2 separate regions of the Homo sapiens genome follow, and region 2 is linked to region 1. Evidence: fine-mapped expression QTL. A gene starts in region 1. The other region holds a variant in brackets. All regions are shown on one strand. Distances are between the middles of the regions. Region 1 holds the start of RBL2 (RB transcriptional corepressor like 2). Region 2 has its middle 40 kb from the start of RBL2.

Region 1 (8,116 bases):
CAATATTACACAATGTCCTAAACTTTAAAAATAAATTCTGCCATACAAGTGCCTAAAACATTAAAATTTAAATATTTTCACCAAAGAAGTAAAATATAATGGATATTAACTGTGATATAAAGAAAGGAAAATCATTAGATGCTAGTTTTAGCATCTAATTTCACCAGTCCACAGGTACAAATGCTCAGAAAATGATAAACAGAGATAATTCTTACTATCACTATGATTTATGAGCTTACATTAGCCATACTCTACTTGTCAAACTCTAACATAGTTACCTCTGCTCTGAACATTTCAGGATTCTAGTTAAAGATACATAGTTTCCTTCCACTGTCCCTTTGCTTACAGTTGGAACAGATTTTCTGCAAGCCACATATAAGGCACATGCTAACCAATGAAGATCATTTCCCTGTAAAAGAAAAGAAAATTGATTTTTAGTTAAAAAGCTACATATAAATATTTCAATATTTTTAAAAGTATGTTTAAATTGAAAGTGTTGTTTATATTTTTGTGGGAAACTTAGTTTCAATGATGACCCTATCTCATACGCTCTTTTTTTTTTTTTTTTTTTTTTTTTTTTTGAGATGGAATCTTGCTCTGTCACCCAGGCTGGAGTGCAGTGGCGCAATCTTGGCTCACTGCAACCTCCACCTCCCAGGTTCAAGCACTCCTCCTACCTCAGCCTCCCAAGTAGCTGGGACTACAGAAGTGCGCCACCATACCTGGCTAATTTTTGTATTTTTTGTAGAGACAGGGTTTTGTCATGTTGCCCAGGCTGGTCTTGAACTCCTGGCCTCAAGTGATCCATCCGCCTTGGCCTTCCAAAGTGCTGGGATTACAGGTGTGAGCCACTGTACCCAGCCCCGTAGGCTCTTCTTATAATGTGACATTAACATTATTCCACTGAGAGGTAGAGAGGGTTCCCTCACCTTGGACCTGGGCAAGGGTCTGCGTTCCCTCACACTGATTAACTGTCTCTATCAATAATTGCAGAGGTAGAAGTGAAACTATGTAATTCTAAAAGATTATACAAGGCAGTATAGATTCCACTTGGTTCTCTCTCTTAGGACATGTGCCTTCGGAGTCCTGAACCAACATGTAAGAATTTAGCTACCCTGGATCACCATGCTGGTGAGACCACATGGAACAAACATACAGAGATGCCCAACGAGCTCCAGCTGTGCCAGTACCTAGTTGCTCAAGTCTTCCAGGTGAGGTACCAGTCATTTTGACGCAGAAACATGACATCCACACTGTCCCCAGCCTGAATTCCTTACTCACAGAACCTGTGACCAAAACAAATTGCTTTCTGCCCCTAAGTTTTAAGGCAATTTGCTATATAGCCATAGTAATGCAAACAATATTATTGTTTATTTTTATTTATTTTTTATTTTTTTTGAGATGGAGTCTCACTGTGTCACCCAGGCTGGAGTACAGTGGCTCCATCTTGGCTCACTCCAAGCTCTGCCTCCCAGGTTCACACCATTCTCCTGCCTCAGCCTCCTGAGTAGCTGGGACTACAGGTGCCCACCACCACGCTCAGCTAATTTTTTGTATTTTTAGTAGAGACTGGGTTTCAATGTGTTAGCCAGGATGGTCTTGATCTCCTGACCTCGTGACTCGCCCACCTAGACCTCCCAAAGTGCTGGGATTACAGGCGTGAGCCCCTGCGCCTGGCCTATTGTTTATATTTTTAATCTTGCTCAAAATCTAGAAAAGTGATAGAAATACAAAATTAAGCTTGAATGGATATTCAGCCACTAATTTTATACCTAATCAAAACACATACATGAATACATAAAATTTATTTGTATAACCAAATGAGACTATTGTGGATCCACTACCAGATATCATTCAAAAATAATAATTTTTAAGGCATTGTTTGTAAAAGATCGTCACAATTCTTTTTACTCAAGAAGTGATACAACTTTCCTCTCCCTATAAAAGCGAGGAAGGATGGAAGATGTCCTTTAGCTTCAATGTATTCATTACTGGTCTAAATGAAAATGAGAAGAACTGGAAATTCTTCCTTTTTTCACATTTACACATAGACTGTCTTACAAACCCACTTATATGTATCAATAGCATAGATGTTCTTTTGTAAAAAAAAAAAAAACAGCCAAGATCTGTGTATCACATATATCTCTGGGAGATGGTTTCATAATATTCTTGATTTATGATGTAAAAGCAAATTTAGATGCATAACTACTGCATTTCTCTACTATATCAATATCTCTTAGAAAGCATAAAGTTAAGTCGGTCACAGCATTATCCTCTGCTTCAATAAAGGGTTTAAAAGATAATCTATAATGTTCTATTTTGGCTCTAGAAAATTCACAACTACTTGGATGGTGGAGGGAGAAAAAAAAAAAGAAAAAAAATAGAAAGTTTACAACTATATCGTTCCTAAAAAGAAGAATTAGTCTTGTGAGAATTTTACAGTGCTTAGATGACAAAATGGAGCGCGAAGCTCTTTTAAATAATTTATGCAAAGAGTAGACTCTGTGCCTAGTTTATCTTTGGTCCTAAAAAATATATGTTGAAAATTCCATAATACTAAAAAAGTTATCCTCAAAATTAACATCTCATGGTCACATCTTCTAGGGTCAAATAGATCTGGTTTCAAATTCCGGCTCTGCCATACAGTAGCTATAACACAGTGGGGAAATTACTTAACAGTCTCAGAGGCTGCATTTTCTTGGCTGAGGACTGTGAGAATGAGTTACAGGTTAAAAATGCACAGAAAATACAAGAAATCAAGTTAAAATTCCATAACCAGTATTCTGTATTAAACATCATAAGAGCTTTATTTTCCCTTGCACTCCCATGAGAATGACATCCCATATTGTCACAGCGTACCTCACTGTAAGCCCCACAAGAGCAGGTTTGCTGCTCTATATCCAGCACCTAGAACAATGTGTAGCAAGTAATAGGTGCTCAAGAAATATTTGATGAATATTTTACTGAGTAAATCATTTACTGAATAAACTGGGCTAAGAAGCTGAAACTAAAGTCTCAGTAATCAAAAGAATTGAGTAATCAAACATGTTTTCAAAAATAATTTACTAACCAGCTATTACGTGATACTTGCTCATGTATCACTAGACTTCATACAACTTAACTGCTATGAGTTGAAATACCTCAAATAAATGGCGATAATGCTTGTTCTATCTGATTTACAGGATTATCTTGAGGGTAAAATAAGAGCTTGTTTGGAAGCCTTTAAGGCCATTTACCAAAAAAAAACCCAAAAAACAAAAAACAACATAAAAAGCCAACCAGTCCTTCTCTTTGCCAGACTACAGAAAGGCACTGAGAGATGAATAGGAACATAGCTTACTCAGCCAGATCATGTAAATATACAAAGAGCTTAGTAAACTTGAAAACACTGTCCATATGGGTGCTTTATGTGCCAGAAACTACATTATTGCCTTATTTAATCTTCAGAACAGCTCTGTGAGGTAAACACAAATATCTCCAGTTTAGAGATCACCATACTGAACTTTTCCAGCGGTTTCAGGTCTGTCGGGTTCTAAAGCCACCATACACTATCTTCTGCAGACCTAACAATTCAAAGAGGGAACTAGTAATTGAATTAAAATTCTATTAATGCAAATACAAATTAAAAATAACCTCACTCATCAGTACACATAGCCAAAAACATCATATTTAAATAATACCTTGGTTAGGCTTTGCATCCTGGACCTATTTGCCCGACTCTTTCTACAAATTAATTATAAAACGACTTGAGAAATCAAATGGCCTCAGGTTTAAATGCCACACACACAGTCAAACAGCTGATAAACAATCCGTACTTCCGTGTCACTTCCCATTGGCCCATGAAGGGGAGGTGCATACAAAGCTGACACTCACTGGCTAGAATGGCCATTTTTCTCATCTGCAAGCCCTGTCCGAAGGCTGCGACCTAACACACCCGGATCGCAACAACAACAGGAGTCCTGTGCAATGCCCGGGGTGACCAAAAAGCCCTCGAGGTAGCCACAGTCCTGATCCTAGTGACAAATGGGGGCATGTGTCTACATCCGGGTCGGCGGAGGGCTCATTTCATCTGGCCTGGGGGGAAATGAGTATTAATTTGTTTACACAGACGTAAACACAGCCCAAAACGCATCAGCACGTTGACTCAAACGCCCGCAACGCCAGGGCAAAGGCAATTTGGTTAACAGGGGGAAGCGAACAGACGGAGACGCCTGGAGACCCAGGTGCCACAACCCGGTTAATCGCGGTGCAAATAAGGGCAAGTCCCCTCCCCTTGTCCGTGTGGTCTTGACAACGACACTAGTTCATTCTACTAACAAGGCGGGCGGGGGGTCAGATGGGCCACACACACCCATTTTCCTCAACGGGACCCCAGCGCGATCTCAGCCTTGCTGTGCTACTTTAGGGCAAGACGCGTTCCCCATTCGGAAGCCGCAGGAAAGCGCGGCGAGAGCGGGTTAGCCCTCGGAGCGGCTAAGAGCCTCGGAATAGCGCAGAGGAAGTCCCCACCCCTCTCGGGGCTGGGAGCCCGCAACCCGCCCGAGAGTCTCTCGAGGCGCGCGACGCGGCTCGGAAGGCACCGGTTCACGCCAACTAGGCCGGAAGCGCCCCTCCGCCCGCGAGCGCACCTCCAGCGTGTAGCTTTCGCTCATGCTGCGGTAGCTGTCCCAGGCCTCGGCCCGCGCCGCCTCGTCCATGTTGAGGCGGCTGCACAGCTCGTCGAACCGCTGCTGGATCTGAGGGGTGGGCGACTCGGCAGGCGGCGCGGCGTCTTCCGCCTCGCCGTCGTCCTCCTCCTCCTCATCCGAGGCTGCCGCCGCCGGAGGGGGAGGCGGGGGCGGTGGCGACTGGTCACCTCCCGACGGCATAGCGCACCCCTGGGCGGCCGGACCTCAGGTGAGGTGAGGGCCCGGGCCCGCAGCCATTCAAACGGCGAAGCGCCCGCCCGTCCGCCGCCCGCACCGCGCCTGCGCCGCCGCAAACGACGCTGACCGCCTGCAGGCACCCGTAGTCTTGAGCACGGGCTGCTGGGAAACGTAGTCCAGGCCGGCGGTTCAAGGGGGCCAAAAATCATGTTTAAAAAAATTAGCTCCCCTAGTTTCACCAGGGGTGAAATAAAAGCACCTTCCCCGCATTTTAAACACGTACCTCCCCACCGTGAGAACATTCAACAGGGCTGTACTGACGAGAAAATGTCCAAAAGACACTGACGTGTGAAGGTTTCGTATCCAGGCTGTTCCCAGAAGTAAAACTTCCTCATCGCCTGGATATCCTTATCTAAAAAATAGGGATAATAGCAAGGGCCTGTCTCTGTACGTTCACGAAACTGCCTTTGCAAAAATCCTAACAGTGAGAAAGTTATGACAGTGCAAGGGATCTGACCTAAATGACTCCACGCTTCTCACTTCCGAGCTGCCCTTGTTCATTCCTGGGCGAAGACCTAACTAACTACAGGAGGAATTTAATTTCTAATTTCACTTTGAAACAAAGATTGTAACAGTCCTTTCCAAAAACAAACCCCATTCTTGCCTGGGGATCAGTCTGCCTTTGTAGAACTAACAAATTAGCCACAAGATTAGAAATTATGATTTAGGAGGCTTGCAGCCAGAGGCTATAAGATTCCTGACCTCCCCAATTGCTCTCAGGGATAACATCACTATTGTAAAACCTAAGATTGGTGCTGGAGATACTTTTCAGACCGCGCATTCCGATGCACTAGCTGGCGCCACTCAGACCATAATCTGGCTCAACAAGTTCTGCAATTCCACTCAGTAACAGAAGACAGCAAGAGCCCACTTCAACCCCCTGTGATTTCACCTCCCACCTGACAAATTAGCATTCGCCAATCCCTGGCCCCCTACCCGCCAAGTCATTCTTTAAAAACCCCAGTCTCCGAATTTTCTGGTAGGCTGATTTGAATAACCAAACTCCTGTCTGCCGTTCAGCTGGCTCTGCGTGAATTAAACTTTTTTTTTTTTTTTGAGACAGAGTCTGGCTCTGTTGCCCAGGCTGGAGTGTAGTGGCACGATCTCGGCTCACTGCAACCTCCGCCTCCTGGGTTCAAGCGATTCTCCTGCCTCAGCCTCCTGAGTATCTGGGATTACAGGTGTGCGCCACCGCACCCAGCTAATTTTTGTATTTTCAGTACAGGCAGGGTTTCACCATGTTGGCCAGGCTGGTCTCGAACTCCTGACCTCAAGTGATCCACCCACCTCGGCCTCCCAAAGTTCTGGGATTACAGGCGTGAGCCACCGTGCCCAGCCAATTCATTTTATTTCCAATTCTCCTTTCTTTATTTTAATTTTTTAAATTGCCAATCCTTGATTTATAAATGGGCTTGATATAAAACATTTTCCAGATTGAGGAGCAATCTGAGGATTGAGCAATTTGAGGATTCAGAAGGCATTACTGTTTTGCTATTTTTGTTTTGCTTGGTGGGATATGTAAACTGACAGAGGGAAAAGTGCTGGGACAAAAGTAGGGGCTTATGGAAGGTATAATGACAGGCGGGAGGACAGGAAATGGAACTCTGAAGATAGGAGAAAATCAGGTAGACAGGTAACAGGATATTTCAGGAACAATTTTGAGACAATGGAACCCTCTTAAGAAAACCTTAGTAAAATTCACAGTAATCAGCAATGCTTTTGGAGTTGGCTAAGTGATGAGTCTCAAGGTGACTATGGGGCAAGAACAGAAGTTGAACACAAATGGTTTAGAAGTATCTTAAGTATATAGGCTGGACGTTGTGGATCACACCTGTAAATCCAGCACTTTGGGAGGTCAAGGTGGGAGGACTGCTTGAGTACAGGAGTTCGAGACCAGCCTGGGCGACATAGTGAAACCCTGTCTCTACAAAAAATAGAAAAATTAACCCAGAGTGGTGGTACACGCCTGTAATCCTAGCTACTTGGGAGACTGAGGTGGGAGGAACGCCTAAGCCTGGGGAGTCTGCAGTGAACTGTGACCATGCCACTACAGCTTGGGCAACAGAGACCCTGTCTCAAAAAAATAATAATAAATAATTTGGCAAGGCGCGGTGGCTCACGCCTGTAATCCCTACACTTTGGGAGGCCAAGGCGGGCAGATCACTTAAGGTTAGGAGTTTAAGACCAGCCTGGCAAACATTGTGAAACCCCATTTCTACTAAAAATACAAAAAATTAGCCAGGAGTGGTGGCTGGTGCCAGTAATCCCAGCTACTCAGGAGGCTGAGGCAGGAGAATTGCTGGAACCCAGGAGGCAAAGACTGCAGTTAGCTGGGATCATGCCACTGCACTCCAGCCTGGGCGACAGAGCAACTCCATCTCAATAAATAAATAAATTAATAAATAATAAGTGTATTAAAATCTTAGTATTTTACCTGTATATACACTGGGAATATTGATTTTAAAATAATGATATTTCTTCCTTTGGAAATCATTATCAACACTTTACTATGTCAAAGCAAATAAAGAGGCCATGAGCCTGATATCATCTGTCTCTGTAGCTGGAGCTTATATGTAAGCAAACCAGAATTCAGTGTAAACAGTAAGACAACAGTAAAACAAAACATAAGCTTAACCAATCAGAAACTGCCAACTAGCCTCTAATTAGGGATTTTCCTTTTTTTTTTTTTTTTTTTTTTTTGGTGACAGAGTCTTGCCTTGTCACGCAGGCTGGAGTGCAATGATGCAATCTCGGCTTACTGCAACCTCTGCCTCCCAGGTTCAAGCGATTCTCCTGCCTCAGCCTCCAGAGTGGCTGGGATTACAGGAGCCAACCACCACACCGGCTAATTTTTGTATTTTTAGTAGAGACGGGGTTTAAGCACATTGGCCAGGCTGGTCTTGAACTCCTGACCTCAAATGATCCAACCACCTCGGCCTTCCAAAGTGCTGGGATTACAGGCATGAGCCACCGGGCCCAGCCCTCACACCCAAATAAGGCAAACACCCAGCTGTAGCCAATCAAGTAACTGTTTTACTTTTCTATTAAAGCTTACTGCTCACCTGCAGAAGCGCTCTGAATATCTTCTTGTTTTAAGTGGTGCCCAATTCATGAATTGTTGTTTGCTTAAACTGTTAACTTGTCCAAAGTTTTTCTTTTAGCAACTAAGAGAAAAACTTAAATTGTTTTAA
Region 2 (17,292 bases), 41 kb after region 1:
GGTGATTTATTCCTCACATAGGTGCTTACAGCTGTGTGTTTCATGCTAAGCACTGCTTTAGCTGCATCCCATAGGTTTTGCTGTGTTTTCTTTTTCTTCATCTCTAGGTATTTTCTAATTTCCTTTGTTAATTTTTTTTTGACCTACTGTCCTTTGAATAGTGTGTTGGTTAATTTCTACATATTTATGAATTTCTCTACTTTTCTTCTGTCATTGTTTCCTAATTTTATTCCACTGTGGTTGGAGAACATACTTTGTATGATGTTAGGTCTATCAAATTTTTTATCATGAGGTATCTCTGAGTTTATCCGCTCTGGAATTTGTTGAGCTTTTGGTGTTTTCAACCATACTTTGTATGATGTTACGTCTATCAAATTTTTTATCATGAGGTACCTCTGAGTTTATCCTCTCTGGAATTTGTTCAGCTTTTTGTGTTTTTAAAAAATCAAATTTTGGAAGTTTTCAATCATTATCTTTTTCTTTCTGTTACTCTAATTATATAATCTTTTTATTATTATTATTATACTTTAAGTTTTAGGGTACATGTGCACAATGTGCAGGTTAGTTACATATGTATACATGTGCCATGCTGGTGCCCTGCACCCACTAACTCGTCATCTAGCATTAGGTATATCTCCCAATGCCATCCCTCCGCCCCTCCCCCCACCCCACAACAGTCCCCAGAGTGTGATGTTCCCCTTCCTGTGTCCATGTGTTCTCATTGTTCAATTCCCACCTATGAGTGAGAATATGTGGTGTTTGGTTTTTTGTTCTTGCGATAGTTTACTGAGAATGATGATTTCCAGTTTCATCCATGTCCCTACAAAGGACATGAACTCATCATTTTTTATGGCTGCATAGTATTCCATGGTGTATATGTGCCACATTTTCTTAATCCAGTCTATCATTGTTGGACATTTGGGTTGGTTCCAAGTCTTTGCTATTGTGAATAATGCCGCAATAAACATATGTGTGCATGTGTCTTTGTAGCAGCATGATTTATAGTCCTTTGGGTATATACCCAGTAATGGGATGGCTGGGTCAAATGGTATTTCTAGTTCTAGATCCCTGAGGAATCGCCACACTGACTTCCACAATGGTTGAACTAGTTTACAGTCCCACCAACAGTGTAAAAGTGTTCCTATTTCTCCACATCCTCTCCAGCACCTGTTGTTTCCTGACTTTTTAATGATTGCCATTCTAACTGGTGTGAGATGGTATCTCATTGTAGTTTTGATTTGCATTTCTCTGATGGCCAGTGATGGTGAGCATTTTTTCATGTGTTTTTTGGCTGCATAAATGTCTTCTTTTGAGAAGTGTCTGTTCATGTCCTTCACCCACTTTTTGATGGGGTTGTTTGCTTTTTTCTTGTAAATTTGTTTGAGTTCATTGTAGATTCTGGATATTAGCCCTTTGTCAGATGAGTAGGTTGCGAAAATTTTCTCCCATTTTGTAGGTTGCCTGTTCACTCTGATGGTAGTTTCTTTTGCTGTGCAGAAGCTCTTTAGTTTAATTAGATCCCATTTGTCAATTTTGGCTTTTGTTGCCATTGCTTTTGGTGTTTTAGACATGAAGTCCTTGCCCATGCCTATGTCCTGAATGGTAATGCCTAGGTTTTCTTCTAGGGTTTTTATGGTTTTAGGTCTAATGTTTAAGTCTTTAATCCATCTTGAATTGATTTTTGTATAAGGTGTAAGGAAAGGATCCAGTTTCAGCTTTCTACATATGGCTAGCCAGTTTTCCCAGCACCATTTATTAAATAGGGAATCCTTTCCCCATTGCTTGTTTTTCTCAGGTTTGTCAAAGATCAGATAGTTGTAGATATGCGGCATTATTTCTGAGGGCTCTGTTCTGTTCCATTGATCTATATCTCTGTTTTGCTACCAGTACTATGCTGTTTTGGTTACTGTAGCCTTGTACTATAGTTTGAAGTCAGGTAGTGTGATGCCTCCAGCTTTGTTCTTTTGGCTTAGGATTGACTTGGTGATGCGGGCTCTTTTTTGGTTCCATATGAACTTTAAAGTAGTTTTTTCCAATTCTGTGAAGAAAGTCATTGGTAGCTTGATGGGGATGGCATTGAATCTATAAATTACCTTGGGCAGTATGGCCATTTTCACTATATTGATTCTTCCTATCCATGAGCATGGAATGTTCTTCCATTTGTTTGTATCCTCTTTTATTTCGTTGAGCAGTGGTTTGTAGTTCTCCTTGAAGAGGTCCTTCACATCCCTTGTAAGTTGGATTCCTAGGTATTTTATTCTCTTTGAAGCAATTGTGAATGGGAGTTCACTCATGATTTGGCTCTCTGTTTGTCTGTTGTTGGTGTATAAGAATGCTTGTGATTTTTGTACATTGATTTTGTATCCTGAGACTTTGCTGAAGTTGCTTATCAGCTTAAGGAGATTTTGGGCTGAGACGATGGGGTTTTCTAGATATACAATCATGTCGTCTGCAAACAGGGAAAATTTGACTTCCTCTTTTCCTATTTGAATACCCTTTATTTCCTTCTCCTGCCCAATCGCCCTGGCCAGAACTTCCAATACTATGTTGAATAGGAGTGGTGAGAAGAGTCCTGTCTTGTGCCAGTTTTCAAAGGGAATGCTTCCAGTTTTTGCCCATTCAGTATGATATTGGCTGTGGGTTTGTCATAGATAGCTCTTATTATTTTGAAATACGTCCCATCAATACCTAATTTATTGAGAGTTTTTAGCATGAAGCGTTGTTGAATTTTGTCAAAGGCCTTTTCTGCATCTATTGAGATAATCATGTGGTTTTTGTCTTTGGTTCTGTTTATATGCTGGATTACATTTATTGATTTGTGTATATTGAACCAGCCTTGCATCCCAGGGATGAAGCCCACTTGATCATGGTGGACAAGCTTTTTGATGTGCTGCTGGATTCGGTCTGCCAGTATTTTATTGAGGATTTTTGCATCAATGTTCATCAAGGATATTGGTCTAAAATTCTCTTTTTTGGTTGTGTCTCTGCCCGGCTTTGGTATCAGGATGATGCTGGCCTCATAAAATGAGTTAGGGAG[G/T]ATTCCCTCTTTTTCTATTGATTGGAATAGTTTCAGAAGGAATGGTACCAGTTCCTCCTTGTACCTCTAGTAGAATTCGGCTGTGAATCCATGTGGTCCTGGACTCTTTTTGGTTGGTAAGCTATTGATTATTGCCACAATTTCAGAGCCTGTTATTGGTCTATTCAGAGATTCAACTTCTTCCTGGTTTAGTCTTGGGAGGGTGTATGTGTCAAGGAATTTATCCATTTCTTCTAGATTTTCTAGTTTATTTGCGTAGAGGTGTTTGTAGTATTCTCTGATGGTAGTTTGTATTTCTGTGGGATCGGTGGTGATATCCCCTTTATCATTTTTTATTGCGTCTATTTGATTCTTCTCTCTTTTTTTCTTTATTAGTCTTGCTAGCGGTCTATCAATTTTGTTGATCCTTTCAAAAAACCAGCTCCTAGATTCATTAATTTTTTGAAGGGTTTTTTGTGACTCTATTTCCTTCAGTTCTGCTCTGATTTTAGTTATTTCTTGCCTTCTGCTAGCTTTTAAATGTGTTTGCTCTTGCTTTTCTGGTTCTTTTAATTGTGATGTTAGGGTGTCAATTTTGGATCTTTCCTGCTTTCTCTTGTGGGCATTTAGTGCTATAAATTTCCCTCTACACACTGCTTTGAATGTGTCCCAGAGATTCTGGTATGTTGTGTCTTTGTTCTTGTTGGTTTCAAAGAACATCTTTATTTCTGCCTTCATTTCGTTATGTACCCAGTAGTCATTCAGGAGCAGGTTGTTCACTTTCCATGTAGTTGAGCGGTTTTGAGTGAGATTCTTAATCCTGAGTTCTAGTTTGATTGCACTGTGGTCTGAGAGATAGTTTGTTATAATTTCTGTTCTTTTACATTTGCTGAGGAGAGCTTTACTTCCAAGTATGTGGTCAATTTTGGAATAGGTGTGGTGTGGTGCTGAAAAAAATGTATATTCTGTTGATTTGGCATGGAGAGTTCTGTAGATGTCTATTAGGTCTGCTTGGTGCAGAGCTGAGTTCAATTCCTGGGTATCCTTGTTGACTTTCTGTCTCATTGATCTGTCTAATGTTGACAGTGGGGTGTTAAAGTCTCCCATTATTAATGTGTGGGAGTCTAAGTCTCTTTGTAGGTCTCTAAGGACTTGCTTTATGAATCTGGGTGCTCCTGTATCAGGTGCATATATATTTAGGATAGTTAGCTCTTCTTGTTGAATTGATCCCTTTACCATTATGTAATGGCCTTCTTTGTCTCTTTTGATCTTTGTTGGTTTAAAGTCTGTTTTATCAGAGACTAGGATTGCAACCCCTGCCTTTTTTTGTTTTCCATTTGCTTGGTAGATCTTCCTCCATCCTTTTATTTTGAGCCTATGTGTGTCTCTGCACGTGAGATGGGTCTCCTGAATACAGCACACTGATGGGTCTTGACTTTATCCAATTTGCCAGTCTGTGTCTTTTAATTGGAGCATTTAGTCCATTTACATTTAAAGTTAATATTGTTATGTGTGAATCTGATCATGTCATTATGATGTTAGCTGGTTATTTTGCTCGTTAGTTGATGCAGTTTCTTCCTAGTCTCGATGGTCTTTACATTTTGGCATGATTTTGCAGCGGCTGGTACCGGTTGTTCCTTTCCATGTTTAGCGCTTCCTTCAGGAGCTCTTTTAGGGCAGGCCTGGTGGTGACAAAATCTCTCAGCATTTGCTTGTCTGTAAAGTATTTTATTTCTCCTTCACTTATGAAGCTTAGTTTGGCTGGATATGAAAATCTGGGTTGAAAATTCTTTTCTTTAAGAATGTTGAATATTGGCCCCCACTCTCTTCTGGCTTGTAGAGTTTCTGCTGAGAGATCCGCTGTTAGTCTGATGGGCTTCCCTTTGAGGGTAACCCGACCTTTCTCTCTGGCTGCCCTTAACATTTTTTCATTCATTTCAACTTTGGTGAATCTGACAACTATGTGTCTTGGAGTTGTTCTTCTCGAGGAGTATCTTTGTGGCGTTCTCTGTGTTTCCTGAATCTGAATGTTGGCCTGCCTTGCTAGATTGGGGAAGTTCTCCTGAATAATATCCTGAAGAGTGTTTTCCAACTTGGTTGCATTCTCCCCGTCACTTTCAGGTACACCAATCAGACGTAGATTTGGTCTTTTCACATAGTCCCATATTTCTTGGAGGATTTGCTCATTTCTTTTTATTCTTCTTTCTCTAAACTTCCCTTCTCACTTCATTTCATTCATTTCATCTTCCATCGCTGATACCCTTTCTTCCAGTTGATCGTATCAGCTCCTGAGGCTTCTGCATTCTTCACGTAGTTCTCGAGCCTTGGTTTTCAGCTCCATCAGCTCCTTTAAGCACTTCTCTGTATTGGTTATTCTAGTTATACATTCTTCTAAATTTTTTTCAAAGTTTTCAACTTCTTTGCCTTTGGTTTGAATGTCCTCCCATAGCTCGGAGTAATTTGATCGTCTGAAGCCTTCTTCTCTCAGCTCGTCAAAGTCATTCTCTGTCCAGCTTTGTTCCGTTGCTGGTGAGGAACTGCGTTCCTTTGGAGGAGGAGAGGCGCTCTGCTTTTTAGAGTTTCCAGTTTTTCTGCTCTGTTTTTTCCCCATCTTTGTGGTTTTATCTACTTTTGGTCTTTGATGATGGTGATGTACAGATGGGTTTTTGGTGTGGATGTCCTTTCTGTTTGTTAGTTTTCCTTCTAACAGACAGGACCCTCAGCTGCAGGTCTGTTGGAGTACCCGGCCGTGTGAGGTGCCAGTCTGCCTCTGCTGGGGGGTGCCTCCCAGTTAGGCTGCTCGGGGGTCAGGGGTCAGGGACCCACTTGAGGAGGCAGTCTGCCCGTTCTCAGATCTCCAGCTGCGTGCTGGGAGAACCACTGCTCTCTTCAAAGCTGTCAGACAGGAACATTTAAGTCTGCAGAGGTTACAGTTGTCTTTTTGTTTGTCTGTGCCCTGCCCCCAGAGGTGGAGCCTACAGAGGCAGGCAGGCCTCCTTGAGCTGTGGTGGGCTCCACCCAGTTCGAGCTTCCCGGCTGCTTTGTTTACCTAAGCAAGCCTGGGCAATGGCGGGCACCCCTCCCCCAGCCTCGCTGTCACCTTGCAGTTTGATTTCAGACTGCTGTGCTAGCAATCAGGGAGACTCCGTGGGCGTAGGACCCTCCGAGCCAGGTGCGGGATATAATCTCCTGGTGTGCAGTTTTTTAAGCCCTTCGGAAAAGCGCAGTATTCGGGTGGGAGTGACCCGATTTTCCAGGTGCCATCTGTCACCCCTTTCTTTGAGTAGGAAAGGGAATTCCCTGACCCCTTGCACTTCCCGAGTGAGGCAATGCCTTGCCCTGCTTTGGCTCGCGCATGGTGCGCGCACCCACTGTCTGGCACTCCCTAGTGAGATGAACCCGGTACCTCAGATGGAAATGCAGAAATCACCCGTCTTCTGCGTCGCTCCTGCTGGGAGCTGTAGACTGGAGCTGTTCCTATTTGGCCATCATCTCTAATTATATAATCTTAACTGAGCTAACTTTAAGTTCCCTAATTCTTTTTCTGACTGTTCAACTCTGCTATTTAGCCCATCTAGTGAATTTTTAATTTCATTTATTGTGCTTGTCCATTCCAGATTTTCTATTTTATTCTTTTTAAAAAATATTTTCTATTTCTTTTTTTTAAACTTTAAATTCAGGGGTACATGTGCAGATTTGTTACATAGGTAAATTTATGTCATGGGGGTTTGTTGTACAGATTATTTCATCACCCAGGTATTAGGCCTAGTACTGATTAATTATTTTTCCTGATCCAATATTTACTATTTTGTGAGACACTGCCCTCATACTTTCCTATAGTTCTTCTGACATGGTTTCCTTTAACTCTTTGAAATAACTGATTTAAAATAGCCAACTTAGTCTTTGTCTAGTCAGTCCAATGTCTGCATTTCCTCAAGAATAGTTCTCTACTGACTGCTTTTCCCCTTTTGGGCCATATATTCTTATTTACTTGCATGCTTCTTAATATATTTTTGTTGGAAACTGGACACTTTAAATTACATGGCAACTCTGGAAATCAGATTTGCCCACCTGCCCCAGGTTTTGTTACTGTGATTATTTAGCATCGTTTTAGTAATATTTCTGAACTAAATCTGTAAAGTCTGTATTTTTTGTTGTAATGAAGTCCTGGGTCAGTTCGCTTAGTGGTCAGCAAATGACTGGAGAGATTTCCCTTAGCACTGGGAAGCGAAGTTTCCCAGTTTTTGCCAAGGGCCTCTGGGTATGTGTTGGGCACGCCTTTAACACTAAGCCAGGCAGCCTGTTTGTAAATTCCATGGGATTTTCTATGTAAACAATCACATAATCTGCAAATAAAGACAGTTTTACTTCTTCCTGCCATTCTCCATGTATTTTATTTCTTCTGCTTTCCTTATTGCATTGGCTAGAAACTCCAATACTATTGAATAGAACAGAGGCATCCATTTTTTTTAACCATAGGGGGAATGCATTCATTCTTTGACTATTAAGAATAATGTCAGCTGCTGTTAACTGTAGCTTTTATCTGTATATGTCCTTGATTAGATTCAGGAAGATGCTTTCTAATACTGTTTGCAGGAATTGATGTTAAATGTTATCAAATGCCTTTCTGCATCGATTGAGATGATTATATCATTTTTCTTTCTTTACCTCTAGCAATATTCTTTGCTCTGAAATCTACTTTGCCTGTTATTAACATAGCTGCTCCAGCTTCCTTTTAAGATGAGCATGCCATATCTTTTTCATGTTTGTCTATACTATTTGTGAATTTATGTTTAAAATTCATTTCTTAAAAGCAGCATGTAGTTTTGTTGTTTTTAACCTATTCCAACCATTTCTGCCTTTTTAAAGGATGCTTAGGCCATTTAGATATAGAGTTTTTCATTGTTATTTTGATTTGCATTTCTCTAATGATCAGTGATATTGAGCTTTTCTATGTATGATTGTAAGCCACATGTATATTTTATTCAAATAACTTTTCTTTTGGACTGAAAAGAAAGCATGTTTATTATAATCTGTGAAAATAAAAAATAATAAGTATTTAAATGTAAGACTGTAACTACAGTAATAGTTTAGAGATGTGAGTGGTCTGTTTAGACTGAAGAAGTCAAATGTTTCATGAGGAAAGTGGAATCTAAATTCAACTCTAAGACAACAGAAAAAGATGAAAGACACGTAACAGGCTCAAACACAAGGAAGTGTATCCACAGAGGATGTCAGGATGATTGGCTAAGATGGAAAAGGGCTAGATTATGGAAGGCCAGGTTATAAAGAGCCCTGAAATTGCAGGAGATGTTGACGTGCCATGCAAAGCTTCTGCAGGTTTTTTAATCAGGTGAAAGGTAAATATACGCATAAAGATCCAAAAGAAATAATGTCAAGAAATTTAGCTAGTGATTAGAGGTAACCCAGAATAACAGAAGGCCCAGACAAATGGGCTGACCCACAGGTGTGTCCTGGAATCCCTCTTATCTATTTCATTCAGCATCCAGTACTGTGGCTGTAATTACCATCTATATCACTAGGACTTCCAAATTCATCGCCATGCCTGCTCCTTTCCTGAACTCTGGCCCTTTACCCGACTGTTTATCTGACACACTCATATAGATGTACAATGAACATCTCACACTTAACATGTGCAAAACAGAATTCTTGATTTGCAGCTCCCAAAAACATGTTCTTATGTTCTTCCCCATTTCTGTCAATTTCACTACTATCCCCACAGTTACTCAAACCAAAACCTTAGAAGTATTATATCCCTTTCTTAACTTACCTTCTACATTTAATAATTGAAGATTCCTGTCAACTTTATCAAATCCTGCCCTGTTGTGTCTTAAATCTATTTATCTCTGTCTTCACTTCCCTGGCCCTCATCATCTTTCACTTAGACTACCCCAAAAGGTCTCCTGAGGATCTTCTTGCCTCCCCATAATCCAGATGTCTCCCTTCTATCTCAAATCCTCACCTGAATTCCCATAGCTCTATGAGACCCAATCCCTCTCTATCTCTTGGATCTCAATTCTTTTTTTTTTTTTTTGAGACAGAGTCTCGCTCTGTCGCCCAGGCTGGAGTGCAGTGGTGCGATCTCCACTCACTGCAAGCTCCGCCTCCCAGGTTCACGCCATTCTCCTGCCTCAGCCCCCACCCCGCAGTAGCTGGGACTACAGGCGCCCGCCACCACGCCCAGCTAATTTTTTTTTGTATTTTTAGTAGAGACGGGGTTTCACCGTGTTAGCCAGATGGTCTCGATCTCCTGACCTCATGATCTGCCTGTCTCAGCCTCCCAAAGTGCTGGGATTACAGGCGTGAGTCACCGCGCCTGGCCGGATCTCACTTCTTAGCACTCTAGTACCACCCTCACCAAGCTTACTCTTGCCTTAGCATCTGAAATACTCTTATACCAGGTTTTTGAAAGGCCGGGTCCCTTCTGTCATTCATGTTTCACCTTAAATGATACCATCTGAGAAAGCCCCCCCTTACCACCCAGTCTTAAGTAGTCACTCACTGTAGTTACTTTCTCACAATATCCCATTTTGTTTTCACTAAGGCAGTCATCATTACCTAAAGTTCTATTTATTGTTTGTCTCCTCCATATTTTTGCACCCCTTTACCCCAGATCAAATGTAAGCTCTTTGAAAGAAAGCACTTTTTAGGTCTTCTTCACTGTTATATCTCCAGATGCAAGACTCACTACACATTTATTGAATGAATTAATGGAAATACAGCACTTGATAAAGATGGGATCTCAAATCAGGAAGAAAAAAATAGATTCGACCAATAATTGAGACAAGTTGTGAAGTATGCAATAAGAAAAATCTGAAGAATGTTAGGGGAACTTTTCCTAGACTGACCCTTATCAGCTCAATCCAAATTCCCATCGTCCACATAGAACCTGGGATTTCTCCTGTGCAATAGTGGCAAATCTGCATCCTAAACCCATCCGTTACTTGTTTCACTTACTTGGCAAGGTCTTCTCCATAGTAATGAAGCAACCAGTAGCAGGTGCTTCCTTATCTGTGACACAGTCTATATGATTCTGACCAATAGCAGACTTCTGTCTTTACAAGCACACATGTGTATGTATGTTGTTTAAATTACAAAATTAAAGCTTGGAATTTAAATCAACCACATTGAACAACAGATCCCTGTTGAATAAATAAACTAAATATACAAACCAATGCACAAGATATAGTCACCACCAAATACAATACCACTTCAACTGAGTTAGCAGTTAGCTAGAGCCTAGGACAAATTCTTGGAAAGACAGAAGCTTCATTTTTAACAATACATAACAGTGCTTAGCATCAGCAAAGCCCCAGATGAGTAGAAGACTCAACTTGGTATCATTAACACAAATAAGTAGTGTTTCATTATTGTATTAGAAAAAAATGGTCTATCATAATAAAATCGCTTTCTTCTGAAAAAAACAAGGCCATTACTTTTCAAAGTTTAGAAATCCTCATGGTGCTAAGTGGCCTATACAACTTAGGTGGAGGGAAGGAATAATTCAGAAGATAGGGCTGGGTTTTTAGTCCTCTGGAGGGTAGAAAATTAGGGATAATGTGACTTCACACATAAACCTTATGATAAGCAAAACATATCCCAGATTCTGTACTCAATGGCTTAATACTGGCTATCATTGGAACTGCAGAGGGATGAAAGATTTTTTATAGCAGATTTGTATTTTTTTGAATTTCTATATGGTTTGAATGTTTTAATCAAGCATGTTTTATTTTTGTAATAATAATGAACTCAAAAAAAGCTAAAAGACAAAAGTAGTCAAAATATACAGGAATTGACTATTTGTATCAGTGCTTTTCAACAGAAATATAATGAGAGCCACAAGTGCTGTGATGCGCATATTTATTTTTAAGTTTTCCAGTAGCCACATTTAAAAAGGTAAGAGAATACAGGTAAAATTAAAGAATATATTTTATTCAACCCAATATATCCAAAATATTATCATTTAAACAGGGATTCAGCATAACAGGTATTGAGATATTTTACAGTCTTTCTTTTCTTACTAAGTCTACAAAATCTGGGGTATATTTTATACTCATAGCATGTCCCAGTGAGAACTGGCCATGTTTCAGTTGCCTTACGAGCCAAATGCATTAGTACTGTACAGTGCAGCTCTGTATCCTGAAAACATATTTTCACATTAATGAAAAAAATGGGCTAATGAGAAGATCAGACAGCTTATAAAATATAAAAAGTAAAGGGTCAGTAACTACATTGAAAAATGTAAAAATTCAGCAGTAATAAAAATATAATGAAAAACCATGAACTGCCACGTGTTCCAGGTCACATGCAGGTATAACTGAGGGATAGGTAAACAAACTAGTATTGCCCTTCTGAAAAAAAAACAACAACATGTTAACAAAAGCTTTAAGTGATTGTTATTCATAATCTTCGCTGCAAAAAAGTTCATTTTCTAAGAATTTTATACTAAGCTCTGACGGAACAAATGTGCAAGACATTTACAAGGATGTTTAAATCTGTATCATTTATAAAGGAAAGAAATTGGCAATAACCTAAATGTTCAATCCCAGGTACCTAATTTCATCAGTAATGGCAAATCCATAAAATTAAATGCCTATCAGTTATTTTATATGATGAGTAATGATTATTCTAGATAGTAGATAATAAATACAACATAACATATGCCCATGAGCTATCTCTCTCCAAGACATGAGATCACTGATTTCAAATTTTATTTTTTGCTTATTTGTATTTTCTAAAATTTCCACAATACATTTTTATTACACCCAAAGTCAATAATCAAAATGGCAAAGTATGTCAGAAAAACTGAAGATGAAGAAAACTGGAAAAAGCCTAGCCTATTTTTTAGAAGAAATCTAATGGTTGCCTCTGAATAAGTAATTTCAGTAGAAGGACAGTATTTAGAAACCAAAATGATGGTTGAGAAGCAAAAAGAAATTTAATCAGCAAGGAATTATGGAAAAATGCACATGGTAACAGTATATATCATACAGAGTGTTTCTTTCTGTTAGATTTTTAAATGAAAATATGCCCATTGTGGAAAGTTTAGAAGAAATGAAAGAGAATAAAGAAGGAAAGAAAAATGACTTGCAACTTCAACACCAGCAATCTCTACCCTCAACATCCTGGAGTGCTCCCTTTAGATCCTTTCCTGCATGGTGCCCAATAAATGTTTGCTGAACAAATGGGGGCAAAAGAACCAAAATACACAGGGATGTCAGTACACTGAAGTAGGAAGGAGGGACAGAAATAGCAAGTCTTAGGAAATGCCTGGGTATAAAATAAGGAGAAAAATTACACTTAATAGCATATCATAATAACTGCATTTAAAGGTGGGAGGAGAGTCAACATGTAATAAGTGTTATTTGATTTAAGTATTTCTATTGCTAAATTTAAGTGTAGTTAAAATTTCATAGTTTACTTTCTTTACATAATGCACTATCCGCATCATTGAAAATTTCTGTGAATATGTTTCTAATAACATTATAATTTTTCAATGTGTAGATATTTCATAATTTGCATAAACAATGCCATGATATTGAAATCAGTTACTTACAATGCCAAGGGAACAGAACTGTTCATGACTCATTGTTGACCTCTATGATATCTACTAGACAGGGGTCCTGTCAGAAGAATGACTAAAAGGGTATTATTAAAACTCTTGATACATGTGGCTAAACTCCTTTCTAGGAAGTTTTAACCAAATCTTGCTCTGAAGCAGTGAGATCTGACAATGTACAGTACGTGAATTTCTATTTATTGGGTGAAAGAGTCATGAAAAGCTAAATGACTAAAGAAAGGAGGCTGTGAAAGACAAAGCTGAGAATGCTGGAGTGAGAAGGAGTCATCATGCTTGCAAGCCACAGTAAAGAGACGAGTGGGAAGAGATGAGTGAGAAAAGAAGGGAAGGAAGTTTGAAAACAAAAGGAAATGTGAACTTAGTTAAGGAAGAACACATCTTCCTCTCAGAAATATGAAGGAGAAACTAATAGGATAGAAAGATAAAGAATAAGTGAAAATAGATATGACTATGAGATGAATTCCTCAGACAACACTGTAAGAAATGTCTTCTTCATTGACCAATTCCAAGAACATCATGCTTCTATTTCTCAGCTGGACAAGTGGCTGTTAGGGGTGCCCAGCCCATCATCCACAACTCTTCTAGCTCCAGCTGGGAGATAACACTGGCTTTGAAGGGATGACAGCCCACCCATGGGGAAAGAAAGATATAACAAATATCTGAAAATTCAGCCCTAACCCCTTAAAGTTTGGCTCACTGAATGATGGCTACTGTGAGGTTTAAGGGAGGAGTAGTATAGAAAGCTCCTAACATCAACTCTTTAAAAATAAAGGCAATTTACCTGGGGAAAATGTATTAGGAACATCTTGTGTCTTGGGGGCCAACTAGATTTTATAACCTTTGGTTTTGAGGACCATATAAGCCCAGCAGAGTAAAATGCTATGAAGACTCATGGCTGTTAATAACTGAGGACGCAAAGACCCTCAAATAGGAAGATTTTCAGTAACAAAAGAAAACGGCTCTTACGCACATAGATTAGATTCCTACAGTTCTCCAGTGTCACTTCTCTGTACAGATTCCTCTGTGGAGGGCTCAGTTATCTCCACTCCCCCTCAGTAAAGTCTACAACAACATTCTTGAATGTCACTGGCTCCTAAAATATAAGCATATTCACCCCCTTTTAGCTATCCAGAAAATGTTCCTGACATAATGTGTAAAGCTGATAGTCACAGGAAAGGTGGAGGAGATGTACAGAAAGTTTTTTTGTTTTGTTTTGTTTTGTTTTGTTTTGTTTTGTTTTGTTTTGTTTTGTTTTTGAGATGGAGTTTCACTCTCGTTGCCTAGGCTGGTGTGCAGTGGCGCAATCTCGGCTCACTGCCACCTCCACCTCCTGGGTTCAAGTGATTCTCCTGCCTCAGCCTCCTGAGTAGCTGGGATTACAGGTGCCCACCACCACACCCAGCTAACTTTTTTGTATTTTTAGTAGAGACAACTTTTCACCATGTTGGCCAGTATGGTCTTGAACTCCTAACCTCAGGTGATCCACCTGCCTCGGCCTCCCAAAGTGCTGGAATTACAGGCACCGGCCACCATGCCCCCCCTTTTTTTTTTTCTGGAGACAGAGTCTTGCTCTGTCACGCAGGCTAGAGTGCAGTGGCACGATCTCAGTTCACTGCAGCCTCCGCCGCCCAGGTTCAAGTGGTTCTTGTGCCTCAGCCTCCCAAGTAGATGGGATTACAGGCACATGCCACCAGGCCTGGCTAATTTTTTTGTATTTTTAGTAGAGATGGGGTTTCACCATGTTACCCAGGCTGGTCTTGAACTCCTGAGCTCAGGCAATCCACTAGGAGTCCATGCCTGGCCCAGGAAGAATTTTTGATAGTGCTCAGACTCTGTGGTTACCTGAAGAAGAAGCCATCAAGAGGAAATCCCAACTCTGTATAATTTCACTCATTTCATCCATATGTCTTTCCCTTCCTGTCTCAAAGGAAAAGTTGCCCTTCCATGTATCCTCTTATTGTATGTTCTAGATGTTCCCTGATACTCTCCAGGCATTCACTCTCACAAATTATCCCCATTTTTGTCAATCTTCAAACTATTCCTCTTTGGAAACCCTTTGGCTTATAAACAAGAATGTTCAAATGAATCTCTTCCTAAATGATTTATTTATCTCTGATAGAAAAAAATAAGAATGCTTTGAAAATCAGTTTAGGAATTACAGTAACAATATTGATGGGCCATCATTTAATAGGCACTGTTAAAAGATGGGGAGATGCAGGTAGAGTAGGCAGCTTGAGAGGAAAAATCAAGGAAATACACCATCAAGAGCAGAAGCCCTTATACACTACTCTTCTGCAGACACTGGGAGGGGCTGCCAGGGGCTTGCCAATTTTTGAGGCAATATGTAGAGTTGGGAGAATGAGACCCCAGGAGTATTTATTCAAAGTTGAGAGGGGAAAGAACAGTCTTCAGGCCTACAACAAAGAGCTAAAGGTTTTCTTAGACAGGTTCTCCCATCCCCTACCCCAAGGCCTCTGCTATTAAAAAGGAACAGAGAATGCAACATCAAATGCATTAGATGCAGCTTAGAAGACAGATGTCACAAATATTTTTGGAGGAGTGTCTACAAGAACCCATCTGTACTAATCACAGCCAATTAGAGGTCTGGCTAAAACCAGCCACGTTAGGATCAATAATATTTTTTAAAAAGGATCCTGTCATTATCATTATGCACAGAAATAACACCAATACAGGAGAGAAAGAACATGGTATGAAAAACATCCAAGGAAGAACACATTCTGGGAAAACTAAGATCCAAGGAATACAAGAAATCTTCTAAAAATGCTTGTGCTATAGAGTAATTCAATAAGGACATGAATTTAATGAAATACACACCACCCAACATGATTTTTTTAAAAAGAGAGATGAAAAGCTATGAATTACTCTGAGAACAAAAATGTATTATGGAGCTAATAAATTTAGTAGGGATTCTCAAACGTGCAAAGACAAAGAGAAGAACATTTTTCTTCTCATTATTCAAGATACAGGTTGAGAGGAGAACATTTTAACTACTTGATACTTAAATCCACCCCCCTACCCAAGAAAAAAGGGAGGATCACAATGAAGAACTAGGGAATAAAATTACTACAGAATGAATGGTAATGAGGGCTGTTTTTTTACCCCAATCTTTATACATTTTATTTTTCTTTCTTGGCTTACTACATTGTTGTTAAGACCAGACATATTTTTTTCTTTTTTGTCCTTGTAAGAGGGTGGTTGGAACCATTTAATTGATCAATGTAGAACACATGGTATAATGAGAATTTAAATGTTAAATTGAGAAAAACAGTTACAGGAATAAATATGGGTCCGGAACAAAAATTTAAATAAGTAAATCTTGACAAAGTAAAAATAATTTTACAACAATTTAAAAAACAGTCCATAGAGGACAAAAGAGAGGGAGAAGAAATGTAAGCAAGGTTGAATGTCTAATCATGTGGACACAAACATACTGAGTCTCTCATAACTGTCTTACCTTCTTTCTTTCACTCATAGAGAAATATTACAAAACAAGGATTTCCTCTTGTTCAATATAGTTCTCTTGAAGAACAGCAATTTCTTTAGTTCTCTAGTTACTTTTTCTTTTTAAATTTGAGTAACATTAATTTTTTTGTTATTAAACCTATTTATTACTAAACAATGCCAGTTTTCTTTCTGTCTCTTCATCCATTCATCTTTTCATCTCTCTTTTCGCCTTACTACAATGCCCAACACTTATCTCCATAAATATTCATGAAGAGAGACAGCCAGGTGTTCACAGTTAACACTGAAAGGGAAATGCATGCACTTTCTGCTTTGTCAAACTACTATGTACTGCTGATTGCTAAGTAAAATAAAATACTTTAAAAAATAAAAACAATGGACTTCCACTTCCAGACAAAATGGAGTAAACACCTTTCTCTGCTTCTCCTATTAAGTGTAGATAACAATGCTGGAAGTTATATTTAAAACAAACATAAGATGAATATGAAAGGTAGAGAAAAGCAGGCTGGCTAAGGCCCCTGGGACTTGGGTGGTTTTGTCATCTCATGTATTCTATAGTTGGAGCTGAAGAAGAATCAACCTGGAAATGGTAATGGAAATAGAGGAAAAAAAAAAAAGCCCCACTAAAGGATCAGCCTAACAAGCCAGAAAACTTTTAGACAGTAACCACCCAACTCTAGGAAAACACCACAGGAAAAAAATGTGGCTCCATCCCCACCACCTTCAGCTAAGGAGGGGGCAGGGAGGCAGACTTCCATGCTCACCCCACCACCCAGGGCTCTCTAAAAAGAGATTTTTAAAGCACATCCCATGAAAAGGCCCCAGTGAGCAATTACATAAATGCTTGAATCAAAAGAAAAGGTAGAAAAATAGAAGTAAAATAGAAGACACACAGAAAAATCAAATAAAAATTTTAAGAATAAAAACATGAGGCCGGGCACAGTGGCTCATGCCTGTAATCCCAGTACTTTCAGAGGCCGAGGCGGGGGGATCACAAGTTCAGGAGATCGAGACCATTCTGGCTAATACAGTGAAACCCTGTCTCTACTAAAAATACAAAAAAATTAGCCGGGCGTGGTGGCCAGTGCCTGTAGTCCTGGCTGCTCAGGAGGCTGAGGCAGGAGAATGGTGTGAACCCGGGAGGCAGAGCTTGCAGTGAGCCGAGACCGCGCCACTGCATTCCAGCCTGGGT

The links. PIP is the estimated chance that this variant, and not a neighbour inherited with it, causes the effect.
Region 2: its variant is the best candidate, but not a certain one, in a credible set for the expression of RBL2 in blood mononuclear cells (TOPMed, PIP 0.88).

Annotation. Positions count from the first base shown.
Region 1 is chr16:53,431,309-53,439,424 of GRCh38, reverse strand. RBL2 (RB transcriptional corepressor like 2) reads right to left here and starts at 4,954. Exons shown (of 22, transcript NM_005611.4): 1 at 4,629-4,954; 2 at 279-409. The coding sequence starts at 4,868. RefSeq lists an enhancer at 3,960-4,069 and a silencer at 4,680-4,899.
Region 2 is chr16:53,386,131-53,403,422 of GRCh38, reverse strand. No RefSeq gene overlaps it. Among named protein-coding and RNA genes, the nearest start is that of RBL2, 40 kb to the left of the region's middle. The variant G/T (reference allele first, on the strand shown) is at 3,038.